3 separate regions of the Homo sapiens genome follow, and all the other regions are reported to be linked to region 3. Evidence: microRNA targets listed by miRTarBase, many of them from high-throughput screens and not tested one by one. Region 3 holds a microRNA gene; each other region holds the end of a gene's coding sequence.

What was found. Region 3 holds the annotated microRNA hsa-let-7c-5p (UGAGGUAGUAGGUUGUAUGGUU, at 1,385-1,406, shown strand). A microRNA usually pairs through its seed, bases 2 to 8, with sites in the 3' UTR of a target mRNA and lowers its output. Matches are read on the target gene's strand: a 7mer-m8 pairs with bases 2 to 8, a 7mer-A1 pairs with bases 2 to 7 and ends in A, and an 8mer does both.
Region 1: miRTarBase lists CEP135 as a target of hsa-let-7c-5p. The part of its 3' UTR that is shown has no 7-base or 8-base seed match.
Region 2: the mRNA of KCTD21 is a reported target of hsa-let-7c-5p. Seed matches in the 3' UTR shown: 7mer-m8 at 987-993 and 8mer at 3,035-3,042.

What each region holds. Positions count from the first base shown.
Region 1 is chr4:56,024,305-56,027,438 of GRCh38, forward strand. It overlaps CEP135 (centrosomal protein 135), which reads left to right. Exons shown (of 26, transcript NM_025009.5): 25 at 197-310. The coding sequence ends at 299. Among named protein-coding and RNA genes, the nearest start is that of CRACD, 23 kb to the right of the region's middle.
Region 2 is chr11:78,171,221-78,174,354 of GRCh38, reverse strand. KCTD21 (potassium channel tetramerization domain containing 21) reads left to right here. Exons shown (of 2, transcript NM_001029859.3): 2 at 1-3,106. The coding sequence ends at 583. KCTD21-AS1 (KCTD21 antisense RNA 1) reads right to left here. Exons shown (of 3, transcript NR_102281.1): 3 at 378-535. Among named protein-coding and RNA genes, the nearest start is that of KCTD21, 16 kb to the left of the region's middle. RefSeq lists an enhancer at 15-516.
Region 3 is chr21:16,538,454-16,541,587 of GRCh38, forward strand. It overlaps MIRLET7C (microRNA let-7c), which reads left to right and starts at 1,375; the gene lies at 1,375-1,458. The region is part of intron 6 of MIR99AHG (mir-99a-let-7c cluster host gene); the gene reads left to right. MIR99A (microRNA 99a) reads left to right here and starts at 636; the gene lies at 636-716.

The sequences.
Region 1 (3,134 bases), not on the chromosome of region 3:
TATATATATATATTTAATTTTTTAATTGAAATATTTTATCCACTACTTAAAAATTGTACAAAGACATAGGATTTAAATTTAATAGTAATACTAAGTAATTTATTACAAATTAGCTAATAACTCTTATATTTGTTTGCCACTTTTTGATTTTCCCTGGTGCTTGAATATATCTCTCTTGTTTGATCTTTACTAACAGAGAACGAGCAATCCAAGAGATGCGTCGACATGGTCTTGCTACACCACCCCTTAGTTCCACTCTGAGGTCTCCTTCACATTCTCCTGAACATAGAAATGTGTAATTATCAGAAAGGTATGTATGTAACACCAAGGACAGGCAAAACTAATCTGTGGTTGTAAAAATTCAGAAAGTAGTTTTCTGCATCAGGAAAGGGGAGATTGCCTGGTAAGGCGTTCAGGAGAACTTCCTGGAGTAATGGAAAAGTTCTATATCTTGGTGATAGTAGTTATGTGGGTATATACAATTGTAAAAATTCATAAAACTGACCATTTACAGTGTATGCTTTTTTTTTTTTTTAAGAGATGGGGTCTCGGCCAGACACAGTGGCCCACACCTGTTATTCCAGCACTTTGGGGAGGCTGAGGCTGGAGGATCACCTAAGGCTAGGAGTTTGAGACAAGCCTGGGCAACACAGTGAGACCTCCACCTCTACAAAAAATACAAAAATTAGCCAGGCATGGTGGCACACACCTGTAGTCCCAGGTACCAGCTGCTGGGGAGGTGGGGGAGGATACTGAGGCAGGGGGATGGCTTGAGCCCGGAAGGTTGAGGCTGCAGTGAACTGTGATTGCACTATTACAGTCCAGTATGCATGACAAAGCAAGCAGCTATCTCCAAAAAAACAAAGAGTTCTCACTATCTTGCCTGGGCTGGCCTCAAACTCCTGGGCTCAAGCAGTCCTCCCACCTCAGCCTCTTGAGTAGCTGGGACTACAGGCTGGTCCATGCATTTTATCGTATATAAATTATACCTGAATTTAAAAAGAGAAGACATCTACAGCATAACGTTAAATGACAATATGAGCTATCACAGGATATTATTTGATGAAGGGCTAAATTCAGGCTACAAATAATAGGTAGTAAAAATGTAGACAAAGCATAGAAACAGTAGTACACATGGTACAGTAGTAACCTGGCAGGAAGGGCAGGCTGTGGGGGAATAATGAGGGAGAGAGGTTTGGAAGGTAGAGTGGGATATATAGAGTATTATATTGAATGTGAAGCTAAATTAGAGATTGTGGACTTTATTCTGTAAGTCAAAAGGAACGTGAACGTCAGTCCTCCTGTGTATAGGATGGGTACAAGGGAAGGGTCAAGATGAAATAACTGTTTCTGGTAGATTAATTTCACAACTGTGTTTGAACCATATTGGAAAGGATAGGAACTAGAGGTAGAGAGACCAGTAAGTGGTATGAAATGAGCAGTATAATAGTTCAGGATTAGTATAATAACATTGAAAGCTAGGACATAATTTTTAAAGTAAACCATGAAATATATACAGAAAGGTACCATATCATAGATACATAGTTCAATGAATTTTTTCAATGAACAAATTGAACACATCCAGGTAACCTGCATGAAAATCAAAAAAAAAAAAAAATAGGCCAGGCACGGTGGCTCACACCTCTGTAATCCCAGCACTTTGGGAGGCCGAGGCGGGTGGATCACTTGAGGTCAGGAGTTCAAGACCAGCCTGGCCAACATGGTGAAACCCCGTCTCTACTAAAAACAGAAAAATTAGCTGGGCATGGTGGCACGCACCTGTAGTCTTAGCTACTTGGGATGCGGAGGCAGGAGAATTGCTTGAACCCAGGAGGCAGAAGTGGCAGTGAGCCCAGATCGCGCCACTGCACTCCAGCTTGGGTGACAGAGTGAGACTCCATCCAAAAAAATAAAATATAAAGCCTGGCACAGGAGACTGAGGTTGCAGGACTACTTGAGCCCAGTTCAAATCCAGTCTGGACAACAAAGCAAAACCCCATCTCAAAAAAACAAAACAAAAACAAAACAAAACTAACTTCTCTTTGGCGTCAGTCATAAGCCCTGGTCTAAAAGTAACTGTCCTGACTGTTAAAAGTGTAGATTTCTTTTTGCTTACTTTTAGACATTTTATAAATGAAATCATGTTCCTGGCTTCTTTTTCTCAACAGTACATTTGTGAGATCCATCCATATTGTTGTGTGTACTTGTAGATTGTTCACTCTTGTTGCTGTGTATGGAATGCCATTATGGAAACTTACTACAATCCAATTACTCCTCCTTCTGTTCATAAGCACTTGGCAGTTTCCAGTTTGGGCTATTACAAATAGTGCTATGGTTATACTTAGAAGTGAAATTGATGGATCACTGGATATGTGTATGTTCAAGCTCTAGGAGATATGGTAAACTGTTTTCCAAAGTAGTTGTAAAGTGCCAGGATGCATTTGACTGAGGAAGGATCAAAGGGATGTGCTGATTCACTGGAGATGGGAATGAGTGGGAAAGAAACATGAGTCAGACCCAGGCTTTGACAGGTAGTGACTGTGGAAAATGCATACTCATTGACAGAAATAGTTATGCCAGTCTTGTTTAAATTGATACATTTCTTTGCCTCTTTTGATAGAAATATATAGAAGATAATTAAACATTTCCTCTGACTCAGAATCCTCATTGTGAACATTAGTTATGTGCTATTCTTTGACGTACTGATGCCCTCAAGTTTGTAGGGCCTTGGTTTAAATGATTCCTGATTGCTCTGCTTCTGCTTTTGTGTTTGATTAGGGCATTTATTTTTCTCTTTCACTTTGAGGACCACTTCTCAGTGTTCACTGTAGTCACTGTGTCCTTCTTGAATTGCTGTGTTATTTTCATGTGATCAGATGGTGGTTCACCTTCTTGTTACAAAGGATTGTAAGAATGTGACACAGACATTTTCTCATGTTTGATTCACAGCTGCAGTTTAGATCAGGGGTTGGTTGGTAAACTAGGATCTGCAAGCCAAATCCATACCACTGCCTATTAGTGTAAATTAAGCTTTATTGGAGCACAGCCACACCCATTTGTTAACAGATTGTCTAAGACTGCTTTACTACAGTGGCAGAGTTGAGTAGTTTTGACAGACCCCATGTCCCACAAAT
Region 2 (3,134 bases), not on the chromosome of region 3:
CCTTGACCTGCCTGAGGACTTCCAGGAGATGGGGCTGCTCCGCAGGGAGGCCGACTTCTACCAGGTGCAGCCCCTGATTGAGGCCCTGCAGGAGAAGGAAGTGGAGCTCTCCAAGGCCGAGAAGAATGCCATGCTCAACATCACACTGAACCAGCGTGTGCAGACGGTCCACTTCACTGTGCGCGAGGCACCCCAGATCTACAGCCTCTCCTCTTCCAGCATGGAGGTCTTCAACGCCAACATCTTCAGCACCTCCTGCCTCTTCCTCAAGCTCCTTGGCTCTAAGCTCTTCTACTGCTCCAATGGCAATCTCTCCTCCATCACCAGCCACTTGCAGGACCCCAACCACCTGACTCTGGACTGGGTGGCCAATGTGGAGGGCCTGCCAGAGGAGGAGTACACCAAGCAGAACCTCAAGAGGCTCTGGGTGGTGCCCGCCAACAAGCAGATCAACAGCTTCCAGGTCTTCGTGGAAGAGGTACTGAAAATCGCTCTGAGCGATGGCTTCTGCATCGATTCTTCTCACCCACATGCTCTGGATTTTATGAACAATAAGATTATTCGATTAATACGGTACAGGTAAAAGGACCCCAACAACACTGGAGATGGGGAGTCCCAGGAAGCTCATGTCAGCCAGGTCTTGGAGGGCATCTCGCCAGTGGTGCGAGGCAGGGGACTATACTAATCTGTATTAATTGTGTAGCAGGACTTGATTCCCCCCATGATGAAGTCCACCTTTTGGAATCCAGTGTCCTCTGAACAGAACCACCTTTTTTCTTGCCATTTTGAGCTGCAGACAGGCGGTTTATTATGACAAGTGAAGAGTCAGCTGATGTGTACTAAAGGAGGCCATAGGAGGATTTTCCAGCCAGGACAAAAGAGCAGCAGTTTTCTCCTGGGCTCCATCTCTCTGTACCGCTAGCCAGTGCCGCATTTATCCATCTGTAAGAAGGCCCTGGTGGAGAGGATGGGATGAGAACAAGAGGCTACCTCCAGTTAACCAGGACATAAAGTCCCCAGCGGTTCCTGTCACACCTGCTCCTCCCTCCCCAGGGTGCATCCATGATCGTGGATGTTTGCCCAGGGGTGACCATGTTTGGCTGGCTTGGAATGCTGTGCATTCTCAGAGCTCTGTTAGTGTCCCCTCTTGGGGGTCAGAGATGAGGTGTGGCAGGGTCTAGAGGAATGAGTGTCCAGGCAGAGTTCAGAAGGTAGGAATGTCCCTCTTGATAGGGCTGAATCAAGGGATTCCTGGCTTTAGAAAGGGTCTGCTATCTTTGCAAAAATGTGCAAGTATCTGTAGCCAGTGTAATGAAATCACTTCCAAATCCAGCCTGTTACCTGACTTTTGTCATTGTTTTCCCAAAAATTTGAGGTATCATTGAAACAGGTCATTTTAAACAAATCTATTACGGATTCTCAGGGTTGGAAATAATTCGATGATTGCTTAGTCCTCCCCCACCCCTAGAACACCCCAGCACATCTGAAGATGAGCGCCTCTCCCTGGGTACCTGCAAGTGATCACCTTGGCCTGCTTGCATACCTTGGCTGATAGGAAGCGCGCCATCCCCAAGGCAGCTCCTGCTGTGGTTGGACAGTGCTGACTGTTAGACAGTTCTTCCCTATATTGAGCCAAAATCTGTCCTGCCACTTGCTGGATCTTGGTTGCAGACCTTCCCATTCACCCAGTTATATATCTTTGCTTTCAAAATAGTCACCTTGAGAGACCAGACATTTTTCTGAAAACATCATTACTCAGAATTCAGATTCCCCTCTGGGATCTGTCTTCAGAATCAAAGTTAGCTCTTTTCTATCCCCTGTAAGTCAGTCCCCTTTTGTTGTAGCTTCACCTCGTTTGTGACCCCCACTTCACCCACCTTCCCCACCATCTGTGGCTCCATATACCTTTCGACCATTTTCTGCTGGAAGAGGAAGATTCACGGCCCCTGAGGAGATCCAGAGGAAAGAGACGGTCTCCAAGGGTGCTGTGCAGCAAGGAGCCCAGGAGTGGTATGAACCGTAACAGTGCCCTTAGAGTAAATGTGCGGCCCCTAAGACCCTGCCCTCAGGAAGGCGGCCTTCCCCTGCAGTCCTGTGTCCCACCCCTGGGTCTCTGTAGGGTGCCATCCAGGGCAAGCAACCCAAGCACTGCTTCCCACCGGGTGATGAGCCATGCAGGCCTCCAAACTGCACGTCATGATTCATCCCTAAAGTGAGTTTGGCCTTGAGAGTCCCCAGGGTCCTCCCCCACTGGGCAGGGGTCCTCAAAGCCAAGGAAGCCTGGTGACACAGGCACCCATGGGAGGTGGGCCCAGAAAGGGGCTTCCCATAGATAGGCCCTGTGAGTAGGGAGCTTGTACACTGGGCCATGGGCAGCGCCAGTTCCCTTGAGCAGTAAAGGCCCTTTTCCCCCTACGGTGGGACCCAGGAGTCTCTCTGACAGCTTTTCTGCCAGGCACAGTGGCTCATGCCTGTAATCCCAACACTCTGGGAGGCCGAGGCGGGAAGATCACTTGAGGTCAGGAGTTCAAGACCAGCCTGGCCAACATGGTGAAACGTCGTCTCTGCTAAAAATACAAAAATTAGCTGGGTGTGGTGACAGGCGCCTATAACCCCAGCTATTTGGGAGGCTGAGGCAGTAGAATCGCTTGAACCCAGATAGCAGAGGTTGCAGTGAGCTGAGAGTGTGCCATTGCAGAGAGACTCCATCCCAAAAAAAGACAGCTGTCCCAGGCCAAGGGTACTTGGGAGAGCCCCTCATGGAGAACCTAGTTTAGACCAAGTAGCAGAAGCTGTGGTCATAACAAAACAATTTGAGGAAGAAATCTTACAAATCACCACTGCCCTTTCTCCTTTTCCATAAAACTGTCCATCTTTTCGGTGCTCCCTAATCCAAGCAGCTTGACTTTAGAGAAGTTGCAGAAGCAGTGAAGCCACTAACATGCTGTGTGACTTTATGCAAGTCACTCACCTCACTGAGCCACCTCCATTTCTTCATCTGTGAAATAGGCATAACAGTAATACATAACCCTACCTACCTCACAGGGCTGTTGTGAGGATCAAATGAAATAATGTAACGTGAGAATACAGTATAAATGATAAAGGATTGTTATTCTTTTGTGTCTGCTTGTAAC
Region 3 (3,134 bases):
ATTAGTAATCATGCCATTATCGTGCCATTTAGTTTAGTTTTATATTAACTCATCCAAATATTGTAAATTTTAGCACCATTCCGACTATAGACACAGATGTATATATTTAAGGCTGATAATAACTTCCTGTATTCTCTAGCTAGTGAACAAGATCTTACTGTTTTATGAGAAAGTTATAATGTTACCAATTCCTTGAAACCAGTAACTAAACTAGTTTTATAAAAATTAAAATAAGCACGGTCTAACTCATACACAATTAACTTAATAGTTAATTTGGTTTTAATTATAGGCTCGTAATACTACATTCATGCCTCACAATTATATAATTCATACATGCATGTATGGATTCTTTTTTCTTTTAAAACTCAATTAGAATAGTTTAATTCCAAAATATTTACTATTGAAACAAAAGCAGTTCGTGAAAAATTTTTCAATAAACTACTTTTTAAATTCTCATGCATATAAATTTGTATTTAGTTTTGAATATTTATGAAGGCCTTTAATGGAGAATATGCATCCTTAGAACTCAGCATTTAAAACATTTATACTAAAGGATCAATATTATTTTTGACTCTTAATTGCATCAGATATTTACAACAAATTCTATATTAATAGGGGGCCCATGCAAGATGTTGCCCATTGGCATAAACCCGTAGATCCGATCTTGTGGTGAAGTGGACCGCACAAGCTCGCTTCTATGGGTCTGTGTCAGTGTGGTAATCTGACAAAATGCTATACACAGTGCCGTTCAACAATAGTTCAGTAAAATCCTGTTAAACTCCAGTTGATTATATACTTTTGAAGTCATTATATTTTCCTTTGTTTTTAATGTTTATTTTAATCATTGTCTGTCTTACAAGGCAGGCTTCAATTCTCAACAACTTGGAAGCGTTTATATCACACCCATTCAAGTTCGATTCCATGTACAGTAAATTGCATAAGAAAGTTGAACCTTTATAGCAGGGTTTGGACCAGGATCTGAATAGATTCTGTTCAGAAACTTCAGTGCATACTGTAGTGCTTAGTGTACCTCTTCAACTTCAGTAAGAAAATTAAAGACTACCATTGGATTTATATGTTTTTATTGAGCCTATTTCTCCTGAAAAAATGAGGCTGAATGCAATTGACTTTTACTATTAATTGCGACTAGAACTATGGCAGGTTAGATGGTCAGAAGACATTTTACGTGACCTATGCTGGAAACCCAAGTGTTTAGGTTAGTCCTATGAGAAACAGTTAGCAGCAAAGTTTACTGGTAAAATGTTAGAATATTATATCTATATCCTTGCCAAGCCCTTAGGTGTATGGCTGCCATATTTGGAGGAGCTGACTGAAGATATGATAAGGAGTTTGAAGCAACATTGGAAGCTGTGTGCATCCGGGTTGAGGTAGTAGGTTGTATGGTTTAGAGTTACACCCTGGGAGTTAACTGTACAACCTTCTAGCTTTCCTTGGAGCACACTTGAGCCGTCGAGGAATTCTTCATCACTTTAACCTGATTGAGCCAATTTGTGTGCAAGAAGGTAATGTGTCATGAGTATCTTGGATCATTGATTTGGGCCTTTATTACATTAAAATGATCATTTCAGCCCTATTAGATTATTCCATTTGTATCTGCTTATGAACAATGTCAAAATGGTATTTCTAATGGGTTGTCACTCCATGTTCAAACATTTTAAGAAAATTGTAGGTAGTGACTTAAATTGCATTAATATTAAAGCTTTTTATCATCTATAGATTAACAAAATTCAGACCTTAATTTTCAAATGGATCATTGGTCTATTTATATTGGCTGCTTAGACACTATAATAAAAAATGTCTGCTAGAGTTAATAGCTCCCATAGCACATTATTTGCGTTTTCCTTATGACACATCACTTTCTACCTTATGTTATGGCTATTTATGTGCTTGCTGATTTTTTCCGCACTAGACTGTAAGCCCCTTGAGGGCAAAGTCCATGTTTTATTTTTCACTGTATCCCCTCCAATGCCTTACTCATAATGAGCACTAACTATTTATTGGATTAGTGAATGGAGTGTAAGACCTCACTCTGTGATGAGTTTCTATTGAATATTTGAATGAGTTATGGCAGTGGTCAAACATCTGAGTTTTATTTATTGCTCCTAAAACTGTTTAAATTTAATTCCTGGACTGCTCCGCATCAGTAATACATGTGTCGATTTTTGACTGTGTTGAATGTGTTCATTCATTCTAAACAGATAAGTTAAAATTTAGAAGTACTTTTTATCTAGAATAAAAATAATAGAGTAAATTCATTTTTACTAATTAGTTCATGACAGTTTATGATCCTACACTTAGATAATTCATATTTCTGTTGAATTTAAATACCTTTCTTTCCAGATGAATCGTTTTTCTTTTAGCATCAATTTCAACTAAATATTCTATTTTAAGTCTCATTTAACAATATGATTTTTAAAAATTAGATTTGTGTCTTTTGTGTATTTCCCTCGTCTCCTGCCCTTTATTTTTGTACAGCTATATCTGTTGAATAAACCAGAAGCAACTAAACCAGAAACATGTCAATAAATTAATAATAAATATGTATATAAAGTATAATTTGAGAATGTGAACACATTTTTGTTTAAAGGAAAGGCACTTTATAATATTCTTTGTGTTACAAAGCAAATGGGACTCTTTGGAACCTTAGTTTGCTGTCAACTTTAGCAGCTGTTAGTGGTGTAATTTGTGTAGTGAGGCTATCTTACATAGATCATCTTTCAGACACAGGATTAAGTAGTTGTTGATGTTAGAACTTTAATTTAAGACTCCAAATATGAAACATGGAATTCATTAAAGAGACGTTTAGATGCAAATATATATTAAGGACCTCAAGATACTGGCTATGTGGTGCTGACCTTTCTAGAATGCTCAGGCATCCAAAATATCTTAATACCTAGAACTTGCTAACAATGTAGTGAAGAAGGAATGGCTACCCCCAACACGTAGAACATGTGAGCCTTAGAAAGTGAATACCAGTCACTTCAAGCAAAATAATTTGATTGGTCTACAGTAGTAAAGACTCTTTCTCTCTGTGAAAGAAAAATATTTGCAAGGACTAATCAAGAAGCAATGAATAAGAGGCAGTAGACATAGACCTAAAACAAACAAACAAA